2 linked regions of the Homo sapiens genome follow. The protein of the gene in region 1 purifies or fractionates together with the protein of each later gene. This does not show direct contact. Each region holds a gene or a part of one and is shown on either strand. Other genes may lie near its edges.

What was found.
Region 2: the proteins of RHEB (region 1) and NUDT9 fractionate together in Homo sapiens (co-fractionation; one large-scale study listed by BioGRID). This does not show direct contact.

The regions. Positions count from the first base shown.
Region 1 is NC_000007.14:151,509,763-151,513,585, reverse strand, and holds part of RHEB (GTP-binding protein Rheb), read left to right. Parts: intron 1-3,823. UniProt on the Homo sapiens protein: Small GTPase that acts as an allosteric activator of the canonical mTORC1 complex, an evolutionarily conserved central nutrient sensor that stimulates anabolic reactions and macromolecule biosynthesis to promote cellular biomass generation and growth.
Region 2 is NC_000004.12:87,425,430-87,429,252, forward strand, and holds part of NUDT9 (ADP-ribose pyrophosphatase, mitochondrial isoform a precursor), read left to right. Parts: intron 1-3,823.

The sequences.
Region 1 (3,823 bases):
AGCGTTACTGGTCATTTGGAAAATATTTGTTCATCGTTACGCAGATCTTCCACATGTTGACACATTTTATTATACAAGCATTTTTAAAAATCACATTTGTTAATATCACCACCAATCTCTGCAAAGTCTTAAGTTTTAGAACACTGTTCGCTATGAGTGGTGCAAGTTTTCCAAAATTCTAATTTCCTCCTTGAGTTCAAATAATTTCCTTGGCAACATGCTACCAGTTTTTACTTGAATTGACTGTTTTGTTTCTTTAATTTCCAAGAAAATGTCTGCCAGCTATTCACATTTGCAATAATGATAGTTTGTCATCATTCTTGCAAGTAAAAAAGGCATTCCATGATAAAAGTGGCCAGTTCAGATCACTTCTCAAATGACTGCACAAGTGCTTTTTTTGGAAACAACCATCATACTTCAGTATGTAACAGAGGTGCTTTATGTGTACATCTCATTTTGTCGTGCAGAATATTAAAAAGACAGGTACCAAAGGGTCAAGATTTAATATAATTTTACTGCTTTTTCAAGGACACTGTTAAGTAGAAACAGCTCTTTTCCCACTGTGAATGCATGGTAGTAAAGAATACAGTGACTTACCACTCAGTTTGTAACTACTGTTTTTGATTCATGCCAAGGGGTGCCGAGCTAGCAGTTTTCCCTACCATTGCTTTTGCACCCTTAGTACAAATGGGAACTTTGTGGAAAAGGCAAATGATAACTTAATATTGCTATGAATATCGTTTTGACCTCATGAGACCCCTGAAAAGATTTTGGTAAACCCCTTAGAGGTCCACAGACCACCCTTTGAGAACCATTAAACTGTTGTAAGCTAGGATCTTGTTCACTGCTGTGCAAAATCGAATTGACAGTGACTGCATCCTAAATGCTGTTCACAGCGATATGGTTCCCACAGTGTTAGAAGAGCCTCCTAGGAGAGGCCCTGTAGCGTTGTGAGAGACAAAGATGGCAAGGCAGGAAAGAACTTGGCGTGGTTAGAATGGAAGGAAGCACGAGGGAGGCCAGAGAACATCAGGAGAGTTATGATATCTGTGTGCCTATTGGTTTGGCCTCTGATTGTGTTGCATTTTTGGATGAGTTGTGTTTGGACCTGGTGATGGCGAGGCTCCCAGAGAGTAGTGAAAATTGCAAAGAGTAGCAGGATACCAGAGACCCATATACTAATAATATAGTTTTTAAATACGAGTATCAGGATGAAGGTGGGGAGGAGTACACAAGTAAAAATAGCAACTTTATCACAGAATGAGACACTGCCACCTCTACCTGTGATTGTGGAAGGTCAGAGATGCACAATGCTTTTCTTGGGTGAAGATTCAGAATAACAAGTTCGCAAACAACTGTAATAGTGTCCATGGCTGGATTGTTCTTAGTTACTTGAATAAATCAGAACTGAACTTGCACATGATTGTGCAAGTGAGAGTATTATGAAATCTTTAGGGATCATACTTGAAGGAACCTTCATTCTTAGTTCTAATTTATTCTGAAGTACCAAATGAAATCTTAACATTGATACAGTACTCACGGTCTATCTTCGTCACGTCATTCTTGCTAACTGTGAGAATGCAAACTGCTGAGTCCTTTTAACATGAATTGCTGGATTGATTTTTAAATATAATCAGCTGTGCGCAGTGGCTCTCGCCTATAATTCCAGCACTTTGGGAGGCCAAGGCGAGTGGATCACCTGAGGTCAGGAGTTCGAGACCAGCCTGGCCAACCTGGCGAAACCCTGTCTCTACTAAAAATACAAAAATTAGCTGGGCGTGGTGGTGGGCGCCTGTAATCCCAGCTACTAGGGAGGCTGAGGCCTGCAGGAGAATCACTTGAACCCGAAGGGGGAGGTTGCAGTGAGTCGAGATCGCGCCACTGGGCGACAGAGCAAGACTCCATCTCAAAAAAAAAAAAAGAAATCTAACATTTTAAAGGTTCTGGAATACTATTTTAGTATTTTAATTTTCTTCAATATATGTTGGGCTTCTGGTTATTAAAAAAAAAAAAGGAGTTCCTGTAGGATTGGAGCTTTAAATCTAAACTGGTATTAGTTTAGAACAGGAAGTGCTAGAAAAGCCTTTACGTTGTGCTCTTATGGGCAAGTTAAGAAAGCAGGGCAGTTTAAAGATAGTGATAGAATTCACTCCGAAGTGTCATGCTTGCTTGGTTTGCGTCTTATCTGTAGTAGAATTGAGTCTTTCTCTCCCGCATTTCTCTTTTTGTTGTGCTTACATGTTTGCAGAAGGACTCCTCATGGACATTTGAAAGAGAAGTTGGTGTTTTAGCAAGATACACCATCCCACCTTTTGCAGGATTGAGAGTTGAATGTTAATAACTACCTGATGGCATAGTACATAATTTGTGAATGGGGATGCAAATATGGGCTTTTACAGTTAATACAGTTTTATGAGATGAAATGCTTTTCTAAGACTTCTGTGTCTTAGATATAAATGTGTCTGCCTATTTTGCTAGCTTTATTTTTTTTTTTATTTTTTATTTTTTGAGACGGAGTCTCACTGTGTCATCCAGGCTGCAGTGCAATGTCGCGATCTCGGCACACTGCAGCTTCAACCTTCCAGCCTCAAGGATCCTCCCGCCTCAGCCTCCCGAGCAGCTGGGACTATGGGTGTGTGCCACCATGCCCTGGCTATTTTTTTATTTTTTTGTAGACATGAGGTCTTACTTGTTGCCTCGACTGGTCTCGAAGTCCTGGACTCAAGCGATCCAGCCACCTCAGCCTCCCAGAGTTCTGGGATCACAGGCTGAGCCACTGCACCTGTATTTTGCTGGCTTTAAAATCTCAATCACATTTGGCATTTGTTTGAAAGAGAACATTTGGGCCAGGCCCCCAAAGATTGAATCACTGCAACTGTTGGTTGAAGAGGACAGTTTGTGAGTGTTATGTGTTATTCAAATTAGGTGTTCATTAAGCATTTGAATAAATGCTCTACTTTGTACCAGTCACAAAAGCTAGGACAGTTATAATCCTTGCCCTCAAGGAGCTTCAGTCTAGTTGAGAGCCACAGGAACTTGTTCCTGCTACTGAGAATAATAATTGTTGGTGCTTTTGAAGCATTTACTGTTATGGGGTACAATCTTAATGCACATGTATTAATAGCCTTTAAACTCGGGTAGGTGCAGTTGTTACACCTATTTTGCAGATAAGGAAACTGAAGTACAAAAAGTTTATGTGACTTGCCCAATGTCAAACTGTTGTTAAGTGACAAAGCCAGGATTTTGAACTCAGGCAGTGGCTCCAGAGCAGGCAGTCTTTAATCAGCTACTACACGATTGTTACTTAAATACAGTTGGGATAGGTGTTTGAGAGAAATAATCAAAGGCAGGGCTAACTTGATCATCAAGTGGGGATGGGGGTGGTGGGAGAATTGTCTTTAAAGGAAAGGCAGTGTGGCTCACTGAGTGAATGAGAAGGGTGAGGTGTGAGTAATGAGAGAGGTCGGGACTCATGTGTTTGCCAACTGTCCTTCAAGAACAGTTTTGTCTGCTCTGTGAAAAGTTTTAGACTTTTTCCTAGAAACTGTGGGAAGTGACTGAAGGGTTTTAAGCAACAAATAAGACGATGATCTATACCAGGGACTGGCAGACTTGTTCTGTAAAAGGCCAGATAGTAAATATCTCAAGCTTTGCAGGGCAGGCCATGTAGCCTCTCTTGCAGCTATTCTACTTTGCCTTTGTAGGACGGAAGCAGCCACAGACAATACATCAACGAGTGGGTGTGGCTGTGTGCTAGTAAAACTTTATTTATGGATATAACACTTGAACTTCATCTGATTTTCAGTATCATGAAATACTGTTT
Region 2 (3,823 bases), on another chromosome or scaffold:
CGTTGCCAAGGCTGGAGTGCGGTGGCGTGATCTTGGCTCATTGCAACCTCCGCCTCCCAGGTTCTAGTGATTCTCCTGCCCCAGCCTCCCTAGTAGCTAGGATTACAGGCGCCCATCACCATGCCTGGCTAAGTTTTATATTTTTAGTAGAGATGGGGTTTTACCATTTTGGCCAGGCTGGTTTCGAACTCCTGACCTCAGGCAATCTGTCTGCCTTGGCCTCTCAAAGTGCTGGTGAATACAGGTGTGAGCCCCCACGCCTGGCCAAGACCCTGTCTCTTTGAAAAAAAAAAAAAAAAAAAGAATTTTACCAGTCTTTGATAATTTGGAAAAACCCAGAAAGTGACAGTTTTGCACTTAGTTTTTGTGATTACTAGAAGGTTTCCAATGTTCATTTTCTTTTTTAATTGCTCTGTCACCTAGGCTGGAGTGCAGTGGTGTGATCATGACTCACTGCAGTCTCAACCTCCTGGGCTCAGTGATTGTCCCAGCTCAGCATCCTGAGTATCTGGTACTACCGGTGCGCACTACCAGGCCTGGCTAATTAAAAATTTATTTATTGTTTGTAGAGATGGGTCTCCCTATGTTGCCCAGGCTGGTCTCAAACTATTGGGCTCAAGTGATCCTCCTGCCTTGGCCTCCTAAAGTTCTGGGATTGTAGGTGTGAGACACTGCTCCCAGTCATCAAATGTACATTTTCTAGAAAAAAGGTAGTATATTACAAAGATGTAGTGAATGCTTTTACATACCACAACATACAAATCTTCCAGAAGGATCTACTGGTGATGTGTGTAGAATATTGTTTTATTCCTGTGAATGCATAAAACATATGAATGAACCAAAAATGAAATAGAGATAGTAAAACATAGTGTTAAGAGCCTGGAATTCTAAGACAGCTTGCCTAGGTTTGGATCCTGATTTCTACTCTCAATTGTGTGACCTTGGTAAACTTATTTACCTCTCTGGGTCTTAATGTTCTTATTTCCTTTTTTTTTTTTGAGACAGAGTCTCGCACTGTCGCCCCAGCTGGTGTGCAGTGGTGTAATCTTGGCTCTCTGCAACTTGTGCCTCCAGGGTTCAAGCGATTCTCCTGCCTCAGCCTAGTGAGTAGCTAGGATTACAGGCGTCTGCCACCATGCCTAGCTAATTTTTTTGTATTTTTAGTAGAGACGGGGTTTCACTGTGTTGGCCAGGCTGTTCTTGAACTCCTGACCTTGCGATCGCCTGCCTCGGCCTCCCAAAGTGCTGGGATTACAGGCGTGAGCCACTGCGCCTGGCCTTAATGTTCTTATTTATAAAAAAAAAAATTGAAAAAGGATAATATGGCCTGGTGTGGAGGCTCACACCTGTAATCTCAGCACTTTGGAAGTCCGAGGCAGGAAGATTGCTTGAGCCTAGGAGTTCAGGACCAGCCTGGGCAACATAGAGTGAGACCCCATCTTGACAAAAAATAAACAAAATTGGGAGTCGCTCAGCCTACCTGATTTACCAAACCACTCCCTTGCCAAAAAAAAAAACAAAAAACTAAACCAAAAAAAAAAAAAGCCAGGTGTGGTAGCATATGCCTATAGTCCCACCTACTCAGGAGGCTGAGGTAGGAGGATTGCTTGAGCCTGGGAGGTCGAGATTGCAGTGAGCCATGATTGTACCAATGCATGCCAGCCTGGGTAACAGAGTGAGGCCTTGTCTCAAAAAAAAAAAAAAAAGTTAAAAAAAAAAAAAGTACCTGAACTCAGTTGTGAGGATCAAGTGAGTTAATTTACAGTGCTTAGAACACTGTCTTGCACATAGCAATCACTATATACATTTAGGTGTGATTATGACAATGATTGTTGCAGATTTTATTTCAAAGCACCACGTCAGTATTGCATTTTTAAAAGTTTGCCAGTCTTAAGAATTGGTTTTTGCCATGTAAATGGACTTTATCAGCTACTTAGTTCCCATTTGCTAGGCCAAATATATTTCTTGCACTTGTTCAATAATACAATACAAAGGTCAAGGCTGTATATGTGTGTATTACAAGTATTCTTTTTTCTGGTACCTTACAGTGTATCACATTTAAATAGCATATATAGATAGCAGTGTTAGCACTTCTTGATGTGATAAGATGTATAGCCTGAATTTTTGCACAATTAAATTTGTTTTAGAAAAGTAAATAATCCAGTGTGTAAATCTGTCTTGTCAAGTAGGTAGATTTGTGGAATTCCATAAACATTTTATTGCTAAATCAGGGAACAAAGAGCCTTAAGTTATTTAAACATTTTTGGTACGTGGGTGGGATGGAGTGGAACAGCATTAGTGTTTCCTGTTTGGTATTTAATTAATGGCCTTAACTTTTTTCTTGCCCTACTCCCAAACCATGAAACATAACTCATTTTGTGATAGGGTTCAATTAGAGATTAGGGTTCCATATGTTAAAATTTTGCTTTTTAAAACACCTGAAGTCTGTTTGCTAATTTTGATAAATGTGTTTCATATATGTATTCATTTTTTATTGAGTATGGGTTTAAGGTGAGTGAGGGAGACTTTATTTTCAGAATATTCATTGTGTAGGTTTCCTAAACTGTGGCAGCTGAGGCAAGAAAGTTGTCATAATCATAATATGAAAGTGAATGAACCTACTGCTTTTAGTAAAGTTAGTCACAAATCAAATACTCGCTCACGTTACACTAGTTTTCAGCCCGTCTGGGGATATTAACTTCTTTATTAGTTAGGTTTTCCCTCATTTTTGGGTGTTTTACCACACTTTGCAGATGTAAAGTGAGTGTAAAATGAAATAGTAATTGTTTCAGAGTCTTTAAATGTGATGAAAGAGAACAGCTTGAACAGTATATAAAACTGTAGACACACAAGAATAGGAAAGAATGAAACCAGTTAAAAATCCAACTGACAGTTTGTCAGTTTCTTACAGAACTCAACACTTATAATTCAGCAATCACACTCTTTGGTATTTACCCAAATGAATTGAAAATTTATGTCCACACAAAAACCTGCACACAGATGTTTATAGCAGTTTTATTCATAACTGCCAAAACTTGGAAGCAACCAAGATGTTCTTCAGTAGGTAAATGGATAAATAAACTGCGGTACATCCAGACAATGGGATATTATATTATTTAGTGCTAAGAAGAAATGAGCTATCAAGCCATGAAAAGACATGGAGGAATCTTAAATGCATATTATTAACTGAAGGAAAGGCTGTATGATTCCAACTATATGGCATTCTTGAAGGCACAACTATGGAGACAGTAAAAAGATCAGGAGTTGGATGAATTGGGGTAGCACAGAGGACTTTAAAAAATAGTCATTTTTTTAGAGCAGTTTTTAGGTTCACACCAAAATTGAGCTAAAGATAAGAGATATCCTGTATACCTCCTACCTCCACCCATGCATAGCCTCCCGCATTGTCAACATCCCCACAGAGCCACGGAGCCATACGTTTGTTAAAATTGAACCTACATTGACGCTTCATCACCCAAAGTCCTGTAGTTTATATCAGGGTTTACTCTTGGTCTTGTACTTTATGGTTTGGACAAATGTATAATGACACGCATCAACTCTTATGGAATTGTACACGTAAAATTCACTGCCTTTAGGGCAGTGAAACTTGCGTATGATACCTAATGGTAGGTACATGTTTACACTATATACACCGAAGAGGGACCAGGAGGAAGTCTAGGAAGCAGTTCTTGTAAGTCAGGTTAAGAATTTTAATTAAAAAGGTTTCTTATTTTTTTAATGAGTCAGGATCTCACTATGTTGCCCAGGCTGGAGTGCAGTGGCGTGATCATGGTTCACTGCAGCCTTGACCTCCTGGACTCAG